2 separate regions of the Homo sapiens genome follow, and region 2 is linked to region 1. A link means that fine-mapping ties the variant in region 1 to the expression of a gene that starts in the linked region. Tissue or cell type: whole blood. Region 1 holds a variant in brackets; the other region holds the start of a gene. All regions are shown on one strand. Distances are between the middles of the regions.

The links. PIP is the estimated chance that this variant, and not a neighbour inherited with it, causes the effect.
Region 2: NLRX1 starts here. The variant in region 1 is fine-mapped to the expression of NLRX1 in whole blood (TOPMed, PIP 0.98).

What each region holds. Positions count from the first base shown.
Region 1 is chr11:119,239,603-119,247,602 of GRCh38, forward strand. All of the region lies in intron 2 of CBL (Cbl proto-oncogene), which reads left to right. Among named protein-coding and RNA genes, the nearest start is that of CBL, 37 kb to the left of the region's middle. The variant A/G (reference allele first, on the strand shown) is at 4,282.
Region 2 is chr11:119,164,568-119,172,683 of GRCh38, forward strand. NLRX1 (NLR family member X1) reads left to right here and starts at 4,158. Exons shown (of 10, transcript NM_001282144.2): 1 at 4,158-4,735; 2 at 6,789-6,906; 3 at 7,789-7,858. The coding sequence starts at 6,837. RefSeq lists a silencer at 4,067-4,676 and enhancers at 4,248-4,953, 4,954-5,658.

The DNA of each region.
Region 1 (8,000 bases):
ATTATTCTTGGCTATGTTGAATAGGAATATCAGGAGTGGCCATCTTTGTCTTTTTGGTATTGAGGAGGAAAATGTTCAGCCTTTCACCATTGAGTATATTAGCTGTGAGATTTTTGTAAAGGCTTTTCATCAGGTTAAAGAAGTTTCCTTACATGTCTTGTTTTTCAGTTTTTGGTTGTTGTTTTTTTTTTGCTTTTTTGTTTTATCATAAACAGTTGTTAGAGACCTTTTATGTTTCATTCGTGGTTTTTCTTTTTTTGATAGGTGAGTTGTGGACAGCTGAGTGCTAGTTAAATATAGTACATAGAAAGAATCTTGAAAAGAAAACTAGTTTGAATAAGCCAAAGTAGAAACTTGTTGACTCATAAAATTCTAGAAAAAATGAGTATCTTAAATTGCACTAAAGAGGCTGGGCATGGTGGCTCACGCCTGTAATGCCAGCACTTTGGGAGGCTGAGGTGGGCAGATCACTTGAGGTCAGGAGTTGGAGACCAGCCTGGCCAACATAGTGAAACCCCATATCTACTAAAAAATTCAAAACAATTAGCTGGACATGGTGGCATATACCTGTAATCCCAGCTGCTTGGGAGGCTAAGGCACGAGAATTGCTTGAACTCGGTTGGTGGAGGTTTGCGGTGAGCTGAGATCATGCCCCTGCACTCCAGCCTGGGTGACAGGGTGAGACTGTTACCAATTAAAAAAAAAAAGAAAAAAAAGAAAGAAAAAGAAAAATTGCACTAAAGGCAAGAATGCAGGTAAGCCTCAGGAACAACTGAAACCAGGATTGAAATGTTGCCAGGACTCTGTCTGTTCTCTTTGATTCTTCTGGTATTACTTCCATACTCAGTGCAGATTAATGCGTAAATTGCAGAAAAGTTTGGTCTCTATTACACCCAAGTTTTATATCTTAAGAGTTTCTGCTGTAGCAGAAGATATGACTCTTAGTTCCAGTTTTCACTTTGGCTTGGTATAGAGCATTTGATTGTCCCTGGACCAACCTCTGGAAGGAGAGGTTAAGTACTGGGATTAGTACAGCAGAGGCCAGTTGCAGACCTCTAGACTAATCGACTGTGGCTTGGGAGACATATGTGTTCCTTCATAGCCATGTGCATGGGGGAGTTTGTTCCTAGTTTTTTGGGTGTTGAGGAGCCAGTCTCTTAAATCTTCTCTATAAGAGTGTACATAATTGGCTGGGTGCAGTGGCTCATGCCTGTAATGCCAGCACTTGGGGAGGCTGAGGTGGGTGGATCACCTGAGGTCAGGAGTTCAAGACCAGCCTGGCTAACATCGTGAAACCCCGTCTCTACTAAAAATACAAAAATTAGCCAGGTGTGGTAGCGGGCACCTGTAATCCCAGCTACTCGGGAGGCTGAGGCAGGAGAATCACTTGAACCTGGGAGGTGGAGGTTGCAGAGCCGAGATTGTGCCACTGCACTCTAGCCTGGGCGACAGAGTTAGATTCCATCTCAAAAATAAAAAATAAAAAATAAAAAAGAATGTACATAATTCTATCTATTATTGTATAGTATTGTTGCTTCATGATTTTATTTTAGTTATTATTAGCTGGTTTAAGTTCTCCAAAGATAAATTTGCCCTCATTTTTCTTAGACTTTATAAAAAATGAATTAAGTAAAACCATAAGCCTCTGTTTTGCCTTTGATCTTTCTGGGTTTTGCACCTGTTTTCATTTGTGTACAGGAAGTTACAGTAGAAGCCGAATGGGATTATACAGTGCAGTTAATTTTAAAAACTTGATTGTATTCATTGTGCAAGTAGGATTAAGCTTTTCTAATGTAATTCTGCCTTCTTAGAGGTAGGAAAAGGAAAAAAAATTAGTATTGAGTATTTTGTCTATGGTAGGCACTGCTCCTGAATAGTACATAGTCCCTTCTTTTCATGAAGCTTATAAGCTTATATTATGTCTTTTTCCATTAGTTTCCAAAGCATAACCTCCATATTATCATCCGGTGGAACAGTATTTAACAAGCGAGACAAAAGTGTTTGTGCAGCTATAATCTTTTCCTAGCACCATGAAAATAGGTTTTCAATAAGTGTGCAAAATTCTTCTGGTAGGTAATGGCAGTTTAGATCTTTGTGTTCAGGAATTTGGGCTTGGTGGGAAGAGATTTTCACTTAGGTTAAAAATGTCCTTGCATTTAGGAAAGGGACAGCAACATGGGTCCTGAAAAAGATTTTCAGTCCATGAGAGAGACAATGATGGCTTGGACCAAAGTGATGGGTGTAGAGATGGAAAGAAGTGGGCAGAATTTGATGTATTTTAAAGCTAACATACCAGGACTTGCTAATGAATTGGATAGATTTCTAGTTTGAGCAACTGGATAGATAGTGCAATGGGAAGCCACTGAACTTTTGAACAGGTGAAGGATGTGATCCACTTGTATTTTACAGTGACAGTATTGGCTGCTGTCTGGAAAATAGGTAAGGTCTTGTGGCAATGATGGAAATAGATGGATAGGTTACTAAATTAGTATTCTAGGCCATGTTAGATTGATGAGACTAGGGAGGAGGAATTTAAAATGAAGAGAGGTGGGCAAATAAGAAATAGATTGGGGATAGGTATGGTGTAATTCCTGTAATCCCAGTGATTTGGGAGACTAAGGAGGATCAGTGGAGGCCAAGAGTTTAAGACCAGCCTGAAACTGGGCACAGTGGCTCACGATTGTAATCCCAGCACTTTGGGAGGCCAAGGCGTTGGATCACCTGAGGTCAGGAGTTCGAGACCAGCGTGAACATGGTGAAACCCCCTCCCTTCTAAAAATACAAAATCAGCTGGGCATGGTGGCGGGTACCTGTAATCCAAGCTACTCAGGAGGCTGAGGCAGGAGAATTACTTGAACCCAGGAGGCGGAGGTTGCAGTGAGCCAAGATTGCACCACTGCACTCTAGCCTGAGTGACAGAGTGAGACTCCATCTCAAAAAAAAAAAAAAAAAAAGACCAGCACGGCACCATAGAGAGACCCTGACCCTGTCTCTACAAAAAATTTAAAAAAGAAAAATTGGCTGGGTGTGGTGGCATGCATACCTGAAGTCCCAGCTACTCAGGAGGCAGTTGAGGTGGGGAGGATCACTTGAGCCGCTGCACTATAGCCTTGGTGACTGAATAAGGCCCTGACTCTTTAAAAAAAAAAAAAAAAAAAAGAAACCAGTTTGCTAGGCCTAAAATAATTGTTTCTTTTGGCTTGCAAAAGTGGCAAAAATGGCAAATCTACTTTTTTTTACTTTTTTAAAAAAATTTTTCTCTCAAATCTATTTATGATGAGTATTCCAAAAGAGGGTGCAGGGACATGGGTATTGCCATACCAGGTTGCATTAGGGGTGAAATTAGTTTAACCTTTCTGGGGTGGTGGTTATATCAAAAGATTTAGAATTTTCAGCCAGGGGTGGTGGCTCATTACTGTAATCCCAGCACTTTGGGAGGCTGAGGCAGGCAGATTACCTGAGGTCAGGAGTTTGAGAACAGTCTGGCCAATGTAGTGAAACCTCGTCTCTACTAAAAATACAAAAATTAGCTGTGTGTGGCAGTGCACGCCTGTAATCCCAGCTACTTGGCAAGCTGAGGCAGCAGAATCGCTAGAATCCAGGAGGTGGAAGTTGCAGTGAGCCGAGATCATGCCAGTGCACTCCAGCCTGGACGACAGAGCAAGACTCAATCTCAAAAAGAAGATAAGACTTAGAATTTTGCTTAATAAGTTCACTGGTAGGATATTTATTTATTTATTTATTTTTAAAGAGAGATTGGTCTGTGTTTTCCAGGCTGGTCTCAAGTGATATGCCCGCTTCACCCTCCCAAAGTGCTGGGATTATAGGCATGAACCACTGCGCCCAGCCTACTGTTAGGAATTTATCAAAGAGAATTGATCAAGGATATGAGACCCCGTCTCAAAAAAAAAAATTTTTTTTTTTTTTTTTTGCTGATGAAGAGTAACGATATGACAATATGTTAAATAGGCTATAGAATTGTATGTTTAATAATATTCCATTTTTGTAGAAAGTATTTTAAAATACAAAAACAACACCTAGAAAGAATGATACCAAAATAACAACGGTAAGTATTAGAATTACAGGTGGTTTAAATTTTCTACAATGAATATGCAATTGATCAAAAAACTTTTTTTTTTTCTTTTGGGAGGCAGGGTCTCTTGTCACCCAGGCAGGAATGCAGAGGTGTGATCACAGCTCATTGCAGCCTCAGCCTCCCAGGTTCGAGCAATTCTCTTGCCTTAGCCTCCTGAGTAGCTGTGACTACAGGTGTGTACCACC[A/G]TGCCTGGCTCGTTTTTAAATTTTTTGTGGACATCGGGTCTCACTGTGTTTCCCAGGCTGGTCTCAAACTCCTGTGCTTAAGTGATCCTTTTGCCTTGGCCTCCCAAAGTGTTGGGATTACAGGTATGAGCCACTACTCCTGACCTCAGATTCTTTTTAAAAGAAGAAAAAAAATGTGGTAACTTCTTAGGTAACAGCACGAATTCACAAGAACAGTTCTGAAAATTTTCCCTTTTGTTGTAGTAATATGATCGCTAGATTATGGTGAAGTTCAGTGAACCTAGCTAGAGAGAGTGCAAAGTTGCTAGCTAGAAAGACTGGAAAACTGGGTTAGTTTATGAAGGTGAAAAGTCACAGTTAGTTCTCAGCATCATCCTGTACAAGGTAATAGTGCTTGTAGAGCAGTAGATCATAAATTACTATGGTTTGTTTAATTATGAAAACCTGATAATCAGATCATCTGTTTTCTTAGAAATTCTAATGTAATGGTAGGTTATATTAGTGCTTCAAACATGGTTTGCTTTTTATTTTTAATTAATTTTTTTTTTTTTTGAGATAAGGTCTCACTCTGCCGTGCAGGCTGGAGTGCAGTGGCACAATCTTGGCTCACCGCAGCCTCAACCTCCAGGGCTCATGTGATTCTCCCACCTCAGCCTCCTGAGTAGCTGGAACAGGTGCATGCTACCATGCCCGGCTAATTTTTTTTTTTTTTTTTTGAGACGGAGTCTCGCTCTGTCGCCCAGCCTGGAGTGCAGTGGCGTGATCTCGGCTCACTGCAAGCTCCGCCTCCCGGGTTCATGCCATTCTCCTGTCTCAACCTCCCGAGTAGCTGAATTTTTGTATTTTTTGTAGAGACGGGATTTTGCCATATTGCCTAGGCTGGTCTTGAACTCCTGAGTTCAAGCAATCCGCCCCACCTTACCTTACCATAGTGCTGGGATTATAGGTGTGAGCCAGCATGGTTGGCCTGTTTATTTTTGTGAGACAGGGTCTTGCTTTGTCACACAAGACTGGAGTCCAGTGACACAATCATAGCTTACTGCTGCCTCTTCCAGGATCATCAATTTACCTGCTTCAGCCTCCCAAGTAGCTGGGACTACAGGCACACACCCCAAGTAGCTGGGACTACAGGCACACACCACCATGCCTGGGCAGTTTTTTAATCTTTTGTAGAGATGGGGTCCCACTTTGTTGCCCAGGCTGGTCTTGAATGCCTGGCCTCAAGTGATTCTCCCACCTTGGACTCCGAAAGTGCTGGGATTACAGGTGTGAGCCACCTTGCCCGACCAGTTTTTTTTTTTTTTTTAAACCAGATATCTACCTGCTTGTCTAGAGCTTTTTTTTATTAATGCAGTTTTTCTCTCAGCCTTTTGGTTTGAGGACCCCTTTACATTCTAAAAATTTTTTGAGGACCTCAAAGAGCTTTTGTATATATGGGTCATATCGATCAACATTTACCATATTTGATATTAAAACCGAGAGATTTAAAAATATTTAGGTTTTTAACCTTTAAACACTTAACAATAATAAGCCTATTACATGTTAACATAAAAAGTTTTAATGGACCAGGTGCAGTGGCTCATGCCTGTAATCCCAGCACTTTGGGAGACCGAGGCAGGTGGATCACTTGAGGTCAGGAGTTCGAGACCAGCCTGGCCAACATGGTGAAACCCCATCTCTACTAAAAATACAAAAATTACCCGGGCATGGTGGTGGGTACCTGTAATCCCAGCTACTCGGGAGGCTGAGGCAGGAGAATCACTTGAACCTGGGAGGTGGAGGTTGCAGTGAGCTGAGATTGTGCCATTGCGCTCCAGCCTGGGTGCCAAGAGCAAAACTCCGTCTCAAAAAACAAACAAAAAAGAAATAGAGACAAGGTTTTGCTCAACCTTCTTCATAACTGGGACTATAGGTCTGTGTCACCATGCCTGGCTAATTTTTAAATTTTTTTGTGGAGATGGGATCTCACTATGTTGCCCGGGCTGGAATTTCTGTTGTTATAAATTAACTAGTCTTTGGTATTTTGTTAATAGCAGCCCAAGCAAACTAAGACAGACGCATTCTTTGCAAATCTTTTTTTTTTTTTTTTTTTTTTTTTTTTTTTTTTGAGGAGATGGAATCTCTCTTTGTCACCAGGCTGGAGTGCAGCGGCGCGATCTCAGCTCACTGCAGCCTCTGCCTCCTGGGTTCAAGGAATTCTTCTGCCTCAGTCTCCCAAGTAGCTGGGACTACAGGCGCGCGCCACCATGCCCAGCTAATTTTTGTACTTGTAGTAGAGACAGGGTTTCACTATGTTGGCCAGGATAGTCTTGATCTCTTGACCTCGTGATCCGCCTGCCTCGGCCTCCCAAAGTGCTGGGATTACAGGTGCGAACCACCGCGCCCGGCCTTACAAATCTTTTTAATACATAGTTTAAGAGAATACAGCTGGAGTTTCATATCTGCTGCATTCAGTGTGTTACAGTGTGATATTTTGGTTGAAGTTTATGGAGAAAATTCAGCTACCCACAAATATGTAGTTGGAAAGGGGGAGGGGTATTCATACTTTACCAAAACTGAACGAGTGTTAGTTTCTTTTTTCTTTTGAGATGGGAGTCTTGCTCTGTTGCCCAGGCTGGAGTGCAATGGCACAATCTCAGCTCACCGCAACCTCCGCCTCCTGGGTTCAAGCAATTCTCCTGCCTCAGCCTCCCGAGTAGCTGGGACTACAGACGTGTGCCACCACACCTGGCTAATTTTTGTATTTTTAGTAGAGATGAGGTTTCACCATGTTGGCCAGGCTGGTCTTGAACTCCTGACCTCAAGTGATCCACCCACTTCGGCCTCCCAAAGTGTTGGGATTACAGGTGTGAGCCAGTGCGCCCAGGCGAGTATTAGTTTCTTAAAAGGTTAGTTGCAGTGTGCAACTGCTTCAATTAACATTTTGTACTTTAAGATTCATGCTATCTTGTAATTGGAATGATTGTTTTACTTGTGCATGATTTCGTAACACACATTGGTCACTTGGAAAATATTGATTGACTAGGTTATAGAGATTTTTCCATATATTGATATATATCAAAACATTAAATTCATTAATTAAATCTCATTAGAAAAGTTTGGTATTGGGAAGCTGTTGCTGATGGTTGTGGATAGAAGTTTGAAAAATGAAATTTTGCTTAAAAGCTTGAGTTTCATTATTGACAATGAAAACTGCCAGTTTATCATCAGGTGACAGGGCACTTCATTTTGGAGAAACACTCTGCCAGTTATGCAAGTCTGAATAGCCATAGTTAGTCTATTCATCATTCTTTCAAGTAAAAATGATGTTCCATACCGTACATGAAAACACAGTTAATAACTTGATGGTGAAAGACTGAAAGCCTTCCCTTTAAGATCATGAAGCAGACAAGATAGCCTACTTTTGCCACATCTCATCAACGTGGTACTAGACGTTCCAGCCAGAGCAATTAGGCAAGGAAAAGAAAAGAAGCCTAATTGCTCTGCTGCAACTTCTAAGAAAAGATAGGAAAAAGAGCCATTTCCATTTGCATGTGACATAATTCTGTATGTAGAAAATTCTAAAGAATCCATTAAGAAAACACTAAAGCCAATAAATGAGTTCTGCAAAGTTGCAGGACACAAGATCAATATACAGAAATCATTTGCCGGGTGTGGTGGCTCACGCCTGTGATCCCAGCACTATGGGAGGCCGAGGCAGACGGATTGCTTGAGGTCAA
Region 2 (8,116 bases), 75 kb before region 1:
GTCTCATCACGTTGCCCAGGCTGGTCTCCAACTCCTGGGCTGAAACGTTCCTCTCAGCTCAGCTTCCGAAAGTGTTAGTATTACAGGCATGAGCCACCATGCCCGGCCCTCTTTCTCTTTTTAAAACGTAAATACTAGGGCATGGCATGGTAGCTCACATCTGTAATTCCAGGACTTTGGGAGGCCAGCCTGGGCAACACAGTGAGGCCCCATCACTACAGCTCTCTATAAAAACAAACAAACAAACAAACAAACAAACAATTAGCTGGGCATGGTGGCAATGCTTGTAGTCCTAGTTACTTGGGAGGCTGAGGTGAGAGGATCACTTGAGCCCAGGAGTTTGAGATTACAGTGAGCTATGATTGTGCCACTGCACCCCAGCCTGGGTGATAGAGTGACACCCTGTTAAAAAAAAAATCCAGTAAATACTTTTTTTTTTTTTTTGAGATGGAGTCTCTCTCTGTCGCCCAGGCTGGAGTGCAGTGGTACCATCTCGGCTCGCTGCAAGCAAGCTCTGCCTCCTGGGTTCACGACATTCTCCTGCCTCAGCCTCCCAAGTAGCTGGGACTAGAGGTGCCTGCCACTACGCCTGGCTAATTTTTTTGTATTTTTAGTAGAGACGGGGTTTCACCGTGTTAGCCAGGATGGTCTCAATCTCCGGACCTCGTGATCCACCCGTCTCGGCCTCCCAAAGTGCTGGGATTACAGACATGAGCCACCACTCCCGGCGAGATACTGTACTCTTGCCACTGTGCCCTACCCCATGTTCCTCCCACCAGTCCCAGTAACCTGCTGAGTTGGAGCATAAATGCTCCCTGCCCATCTAAGTATGTTTTGAAGTGGGCCCTCTCTCCCTAAGTGCCAAAGTACCTAAGTACCTGGGCTTACAGATCATCTTTTTTTTTTTCTTTTTTGAGACGGAGTCTCACTCTGTAGCCCAAGCTGGAGTGCAGTGGCGTGATCTCGGCTCACTGCAACCTTCGCCTCTGGGGCTCAAGCAATTCTCCTGCCTCAGCCTCCCAAGTAGCTGGGACTAGAGGCGTGCGCCACCACACCTGGTTAATTTTTTTTGTATTTTTAGTAGAGGCGGGGTTTCACCATGTAGCCCTGATGATCTCGAACTCCTGAGCTCAGGCAATCCACCCACACTGGCCTCCCAAAGTGCTGGGATTACAGGCGTGAGCCACCACGCCCATCTGATATCATCTTCTTTAACACAGTCACCTTCTCTGTGTCCAGACCTATGCAAAGTGCTGAAGACCAGAGTTGACTAAGACAGTTGTCCATGCAATAATTCTTTTTTTTTGAGACAGGGTCTCGCTCTGTCACCCATGCTAGAGTACAGGGTGCAACCATGGCTTACTGCAGCCTCAACTTCCTGGGCTCAAGCGATCCTCCCATCTCAGACTCTAGAGTAGCTGGGACCGCAGGTGCGTGCCACCATGCCTAGCTAATTTTTTAAAAATTATTTTTGTGGAGTCAGGGTTCTATTATGTTGCCCAAGCTGGTCTCAAACTCCTGGGCTCGAGTGATCCTTCTGCCTTAGCCTCCCAAAGTGCTGGGATTACAGGTGTGAGCAACCACACCCCGGCCTCATGCTATAACTTTTTTTTTTTTTTTTAGACAGAGTCTCACTCTGTAGCCAAGGCTGGAGTGTGTAGTGGCATGATCGCGGCTCACTGCAACCTCTGCCTCCTGGGTTCAAGCGATTCTCCTGCCTCAGCCTCCTGAGTAGCTGGGACTACAGGTGCCTGCCACCAAGCCTGGCTAATTTTTTTGTATTTCTAGTAGAGACGGGGTTTCACCACGTTGGTCAGGCTGGTCTCGAACTACTGACCTCAGGTGATCCACCCACCTCGGCCTCCCAAAGTGCTGGGATTATAGGGTGAGCCACTGCACCGCATCCTAGGTCAGACAACAGAGGACATGCCCACGGCATGACTCACAGTACTTCTGTCTGCAAGAGGCCAGTCAAAGTATATGTTATTAATAAAACCTACATGGTTGTCGTACCCATGGGGAAGGTGACAGGGGAGGAAAACAGATTGCTCTGAGCTGTGTCCAGGAACTGCTGCCAGGTGACTGTCTTGCATGGCTAGGTAAGTGGAATGAAGCTAGAGGAGATTACCAGGCCCAAACTGTCACCCATGAGACTACATTCATGGGGTTCCTATACTTCCCCTCCCACATCCTATTCTACTCCCCTTGAAGAACCTCTTTTAAAATGCAAATGTGTTGTTCACCCTGCTGCTGGGATGCCCTGCCTTTCCTTTCTCTGATTTATTTATTTATTGAGACAGGGTCTCTCTCTGTTGCCCAGGTTGGAGTGCAGTGGTGCAATCTTGGCTCACTGCAACCTCCGCCTCCCAGGTTCAAGCAATTCTCCTGCTTCAGTCTCCTGAGTAGCTGTGATTATGGGCATGTGCCACCATGCCCAGCTAATTTTTTGTGCTTTTGTTTTTATTTTTGAGACACGGTTTTGCTTTATCTCCCAGGCTAGAGTGCAGTGGCATGATCTCGGCTCACTGCAACCTCTACCTCCCAAGTTCAAGCAATTCTTGTGCCTCAGCCTTCTGAGTAGCTGGTACTACAGGCCCATGCCACCACGTCTGGTTGATTTTTTTTTTTTTTTTGATACAGAGTCTTGCTCTGTCTCCCAGGCTGGAATGCAGTGGCGTGATCTTGGCTCACGGCAACCTCCGCCTCCTGGATTCAAGCGATTCTCCTGCCTAAGCCTCCTGTGTAGCTGGGACTGCAGGCATGCACCACCCAGCCCGGCTAATTTTTGTATTTTTAGTAGAGATGAGGTTTCACCACGTTGCCTAGGTTGGTCGTGAACTTCTGAGCTCAGGCAATCCGCCTGCCTTGGCCTCCCAAAGTGCTAGGATTACAGGCATGAGCCACCATGCCTGGCCAATTTTTGTTATTTTTAGTAGAGACGGGGGTTTCACCATGTTGGCCATGGTGACGAGTTTGAGCTGGTCCCAAACTCCTGGCCTCAGGAGATCTGCCCTCACCCCCAGCCTTCCAAAGTGCTGAGATTACAGGTGTGAGCCACCGCGGCTGGTCCTCTGATTTATTTTTTCAGATCCAGTACAAATGTTACCTCCTCTGCACTCCCTTTTCCAGACTCTCCTAATGCCTTGCCTCTGCCACTGAAGTACATCATTTGTTTGTCTGTTTTTTATATTTTTATTTTCTATTTTCATTTTAAATAGAGACAGGGTCTCACTATGTCACCCAGGCTGGTCTCAAACTCCTGGTCTCAAGTGATCCTCCTGCCTCGGCCTTGAAGTACATCATTTGTAAATGTGGTAGTTGATTCCATTAAAGTGAGGTGCCTGCCTTGCTGTGGTTGGCAGCCCAGGGCCTAGTGCTGGACCTGGCTTGTGGGGGTGAGGTGCTCAGTGCTACCCAATACCACAGTACAACGAATGAACAAATGTCTAAATGAAACATCCACATTGTTTTCAGTAAGTCCTCTTCCCAGCCCTGCCCTGGAGAGCCTCTCTGTGGGTGCCCTAGTGCACAGCTCTGTTGTGTGAACATCGTACACTCATGCTTGCATACGAAGGCGTGCCCTGGCTGTGGGTGGTGGGTGGCTCCTCCTTCTGGGCTACGTGAGCCCAGGGTGTGGAAGTGTGTGGAAGTGTAGGGATAAGGGTGGGGGCTTTGGGAACTGGGAAGCCCCAGGGCTAGGCCATGAATGGGTGTCAGACCCGAAGAGCAGGTTGGGGTGCAAGTTGTCCTTCAGCCCCCATTCTTCCTTCTTTCTTAACCAAGGTTACCAGCAGCCACACACATAGGTCTGGGCTCTGAAGAGGACCGGATACATAAGGCAGAACCCAAGGAAGCCTTAGGCTCAGGTCTCTGCCTGAAGGTAGGCTGGGGAGGCGGAGAGGGACAGAGGGAAGAATCCCCTGGACACCGCGCCTCAGGGAGGCCCAGGGGTAAGGTAGGAAGACTCAGGCCCGGGATGTTGTTCTGGCTCATCCACTTCCTAACTGAATCAACCTGCACAAGTCATTTCACCCTTCTGAGCATCAGTTTCTTCATCTGTAAAATGGGCCTAACAAGCAGCCCAGCCTGGGAGGTGGTTAGTGAGGTCACTGGGTGTCACTGGCGCTTGGGAACCTGCAGAGGGCAGTACTAGCGGCAGTGCCCGCGGGGATGGAGGCAGGGAGGGGGGACGATGGCGGGACGGGTGGCGCCGGGGTTCCAGCCCTGCGCCTGCTCCGGAGCACCGGGCCCCTCTCGCTGACCCCCTCGTCCCAGGACCCCGCAGGCCCGAGTGCCTGGGCTCGTCCTCTTTCGCGCCCGCTGCCAGGTGCCAGGGCCGCGCAGGCGGGCGGAGGTGGGCAGGAAGCGCCACGCCGAGGAGCCGGGGACTCTGGGAGCTAGCGGGAGACGCCGGCGTCCGCCCAGCCGACCCCTCTGGGCCGCGGCCGACGGCTCCCGGAACTGGGCAGCCGCGGGTAAAGGCCTAGCGGGCTTGATAACCCCTGCGCCCTGGCTGGGAGGCCGCGCTGAGCGGGGGGCAGGGCGGGCCGGGGGAGGAGGCTGTGCAAGGGCCGCGGGGAGATCCCGGCCGAGAACGAGAGGGACGGAGCTGGGCGCTGAATGGCGGGCGTTCTGGCAAGTCTCCCCCTGCGTTCCCGAGGCCACCCGAAAGTAGGAGAGCTGTTTGGGACCCAGTTTGGTGGAGGAGCTCTGGACCTGTAGGAACACCGCCCCTGTACGTTTCCTGCAGTGCCCCCTCCTTTTCTCATTGCCCTGGAGACCTGGGTGATCACCGGAGAACTGCCCTCGGCCCCGCAAGTCCCGTCTTGACTCAGTGGCCCTAGATCCGAGGTTAAACCGGAACCTAGGCTTTCTCAGGCTTCTGGAGCCCTCTCTTAACCCTTCCGCAGCCCCTGGGACGGGCCAGCACCCAGCCAGCTCCTCCGCTGGTTGGCCCTGCTAAGGCAGGTGGCCCAATGCAGCCAGTTCTCCTTAAGCGTACCCTGCCCAAGAAGCCCCGATCTCAGTGGAGGAGACCAGGTGCCAAATAGGGGCACATTCCATTTAAGTGAGTTCAGAGGCCTCAGAAAAGACTTCCCAGGGACGGAGACTTTTGAGCAGGATCTTAAAAGATTGGTTGGGGCCCGAGTGGTGGCTCGCGCCTGCAGTCCCCGCACTTTGGGAGGGCAAGGCGGGCGGATCACTTGAGCCCAGGAGTTCGAGACCACCCTGGGCAACAATGGTGAAAACCCCGTCTCTACAAAAACCAAAGCCAAAAATTAGCCAGGTGTGGTGGCACACCACTTTAGTCCTAGCTACTCAGGAGGCTGAAGCAGGAGGATGGCTTGAGCCCAGGAGGTAGAGGTTGCTGTGAGCTGAGATCGTACTACTGCACTCCAGCCTGGGCAACAGAGCGAGAGACCCTGTCTCAGGAAAAAAAAAAAAAAAAAAAAAAAAAAAAAAAAAATTGGTTGGGACTCTAACAGAGGAAAAAGGTCATTCCAAACTGGGAAGAGTGTATGAACAAATTTAGGACAGCAAGAGCAAGAATCCGGTGAGCCTGGGGTATAAGGCACAGGCTGGGACAAACTCAGAAAAATAGCTTGTGGGAGCCCAGTGTTTGGACTCTATAAGTAACCTTGGACTTTTCGGGAGGTGCTTGGTGCTTGGGGTGAGGGATTAGAATGGGATGAGACTGAAGGCAGAAAGGCTGGTGAGGAGATCGGGTCCAATAAATGCTGGTCGGGGCAGCAACTGGCTGGCAAAGCAGTGGGGAGGAATTGCTAGGACTCTTCACACTGCCTAAAGGAGCAAGGGAAGAAAGATTTGAAGAGAGAGGTCAGGTTTCTAATGTAAGGCGTGGGTGGGAAGATTTGCAGCAAGGTAAATGACAAGAGGAGGGGAATGATGAGTTCAGTTTTACATGGGAGAAGTTTGAAGCAGTGGCAGGTTGTCCATCTGGAGATGTCAAGTGAGAAGTTCATTCATTTATTTATTATTTATGTCAGCCTCAAAGGCTGCTTACATAAAAGTCACAGAGAACATAAAATGATGAAGCCATTAAAACTCAGCTAAAAGGATCTGATATCTGCGGAAGAAAGGCAGAGTGGGGTGGATAATTATTACTGGAAAATCTAGGCACAGAAAAGCCACTGAAAATGAACACAGGACTCCTATCTGAGCTTGCTGGTGGCCAAGAAGGAAAAAGGACACCTAAATAAAGCAGTTTACCAGGGTGGAACTCAGGGAAAGGTGTTCGTGAAGCTTCAGGGGAGAGGCAAGACGTGGCAGGAAGGCCAGGTGTGATGGCTCACACTTGTAATCCCAGCACTTTGCAAGGCCAAGGCAGGCAGATTACCTGAGGTCAGAAGTTCAAGACCAGCTTAACCAACATGGTAAACCCCGTCTCTACTAAAAATACAAAAATTAGCCCAGTGTGGTGGTGGGCGCCTGTAATCCCAGCTACTTGGGAGGCTGAGGCAGGAGAATCGCTTGGGCCCGGGAGGCATAGGCTTCAATGAGCCACAATCATGCCTGGGCAACAGAGGGGCACTCCATCTCAAAAAAGAAAAAAGAAAAAAAAGGTGGTAGGAGATAAAATGGGATTCCTCAAGCTGGAGTTTGGGAGAGGGACGAGAGCTGAAAACCAGGCCAGGGCTTCAGCAGGGCCAACATTTGAGGAAGGGCTGATCCTCTCCTGGGAGGAAGGTCCCTCCTTGGCTGGAATGGGGTTAGGGGTGCAGGGGAGGAGTGGTGGCAGTGATCCATTCGTACTATTCTTCTTGCAGGACAGAAGTCGGTCCTAGGCCCCCCAGGCTCTGACCTTCTTTCCCAGGATGAGGTGGGGCCACCATTTGCCCAGGGCCTCTTGGGGCTCTGGTTTTAGAAGAGCACTCCAGCGACCAGGTGAGCAGGAAGCAGGGGTTTCTGTTTTTACCTCTTTCTTGCTTTCCAGGGTCCACATGATGCCTCCAAGACAGCAGGGATCCAGACACCAGGTGCACTAGTCTCAGCTCCGTGGTTCTCTAGCTGTTGACCTTGAGCATGTCGCTTCACCTTCCTCAGCTGCCTTTTTCCCAACCTAAAATAAGGGAGTTGGACTTGGCCAGGTGCGGTGGCTCATGCCTGTAATCCTAGCACTTTGGAAGGCCGAGGCAGGCGGATCACAAGATCAGGAGTTTGAGACCAGCCTGGCAACATGGTGAAACCCTGTCTCTATTAAAACTACAAAAAAAAAAATTAACCAGGTGTAGTGGTGCACACCTGTAATCCCAGCTAGTTGGGAGGCTGAGGCAGGAGAATCATTTGAACCGGGAGGCAGAAGTTGCAGTGAGCTGAGATCGCACCATTGCACTCCAGCCTGGACAATAGAGTAAGACTCTGTCTCAAAAAAAAAAAAAGAGAGTTGGACTAGATCATCTTCGAGAGTCTCTTGTAGCTACATAAGTCTAGGAACTTGTCTGATTTTACTTTACATACAACAGAGATTTACTGAGTGCCTGCCGTACCGCAGACCTGGTGTTAAGTTCTAAGTAAATAATTGTGAACAAAAACAGACGTAAAGGGGACAAAAAAATTTTAAAACACCCAAATGTGATCCCTCTCATGGAGGAGAGAGGAATGAATGTTAATCGAATAATCACACAATGAAATATAAAATTGCAAAATAACTGCTGCAAAGGGGCAGTACATGCTGCTATGAGAGCAAATACTGGGGGGTTTGATGTAGACATGGGTTCTGTGTATTGCATGGGATCTGCAGATGCTATTTCTTCCTTCTCTCTGTAGATGATCGTATCCCCTTCCTGATCCACTGGAGTTGGCCCCTTCAAGGGGAGCGTCCCTTTGGGCCCCCTAGGTGAGGCCTGGGTGTCATACCTTAGGACTAGTCTGGGCACAACAGAGCAGACTGGGAAGGGTCAGGACTTGGGGCTAGCTTGATCTCTTGGGGACCTTGGGGAGGGGCTTGGTCCTTTGGGGGTGGGAGGACAGTGGCAGCTCCAAGGCCTGAGAGGAAGTTGGCTTAGATCATCTGTGGTAGAAGGCATAGTAGTCAGTGGAGGGAGGACCCTGTGGGAAGTGGGTGGAGCCTCACATGGCCAGCCTGAGTTCCAGG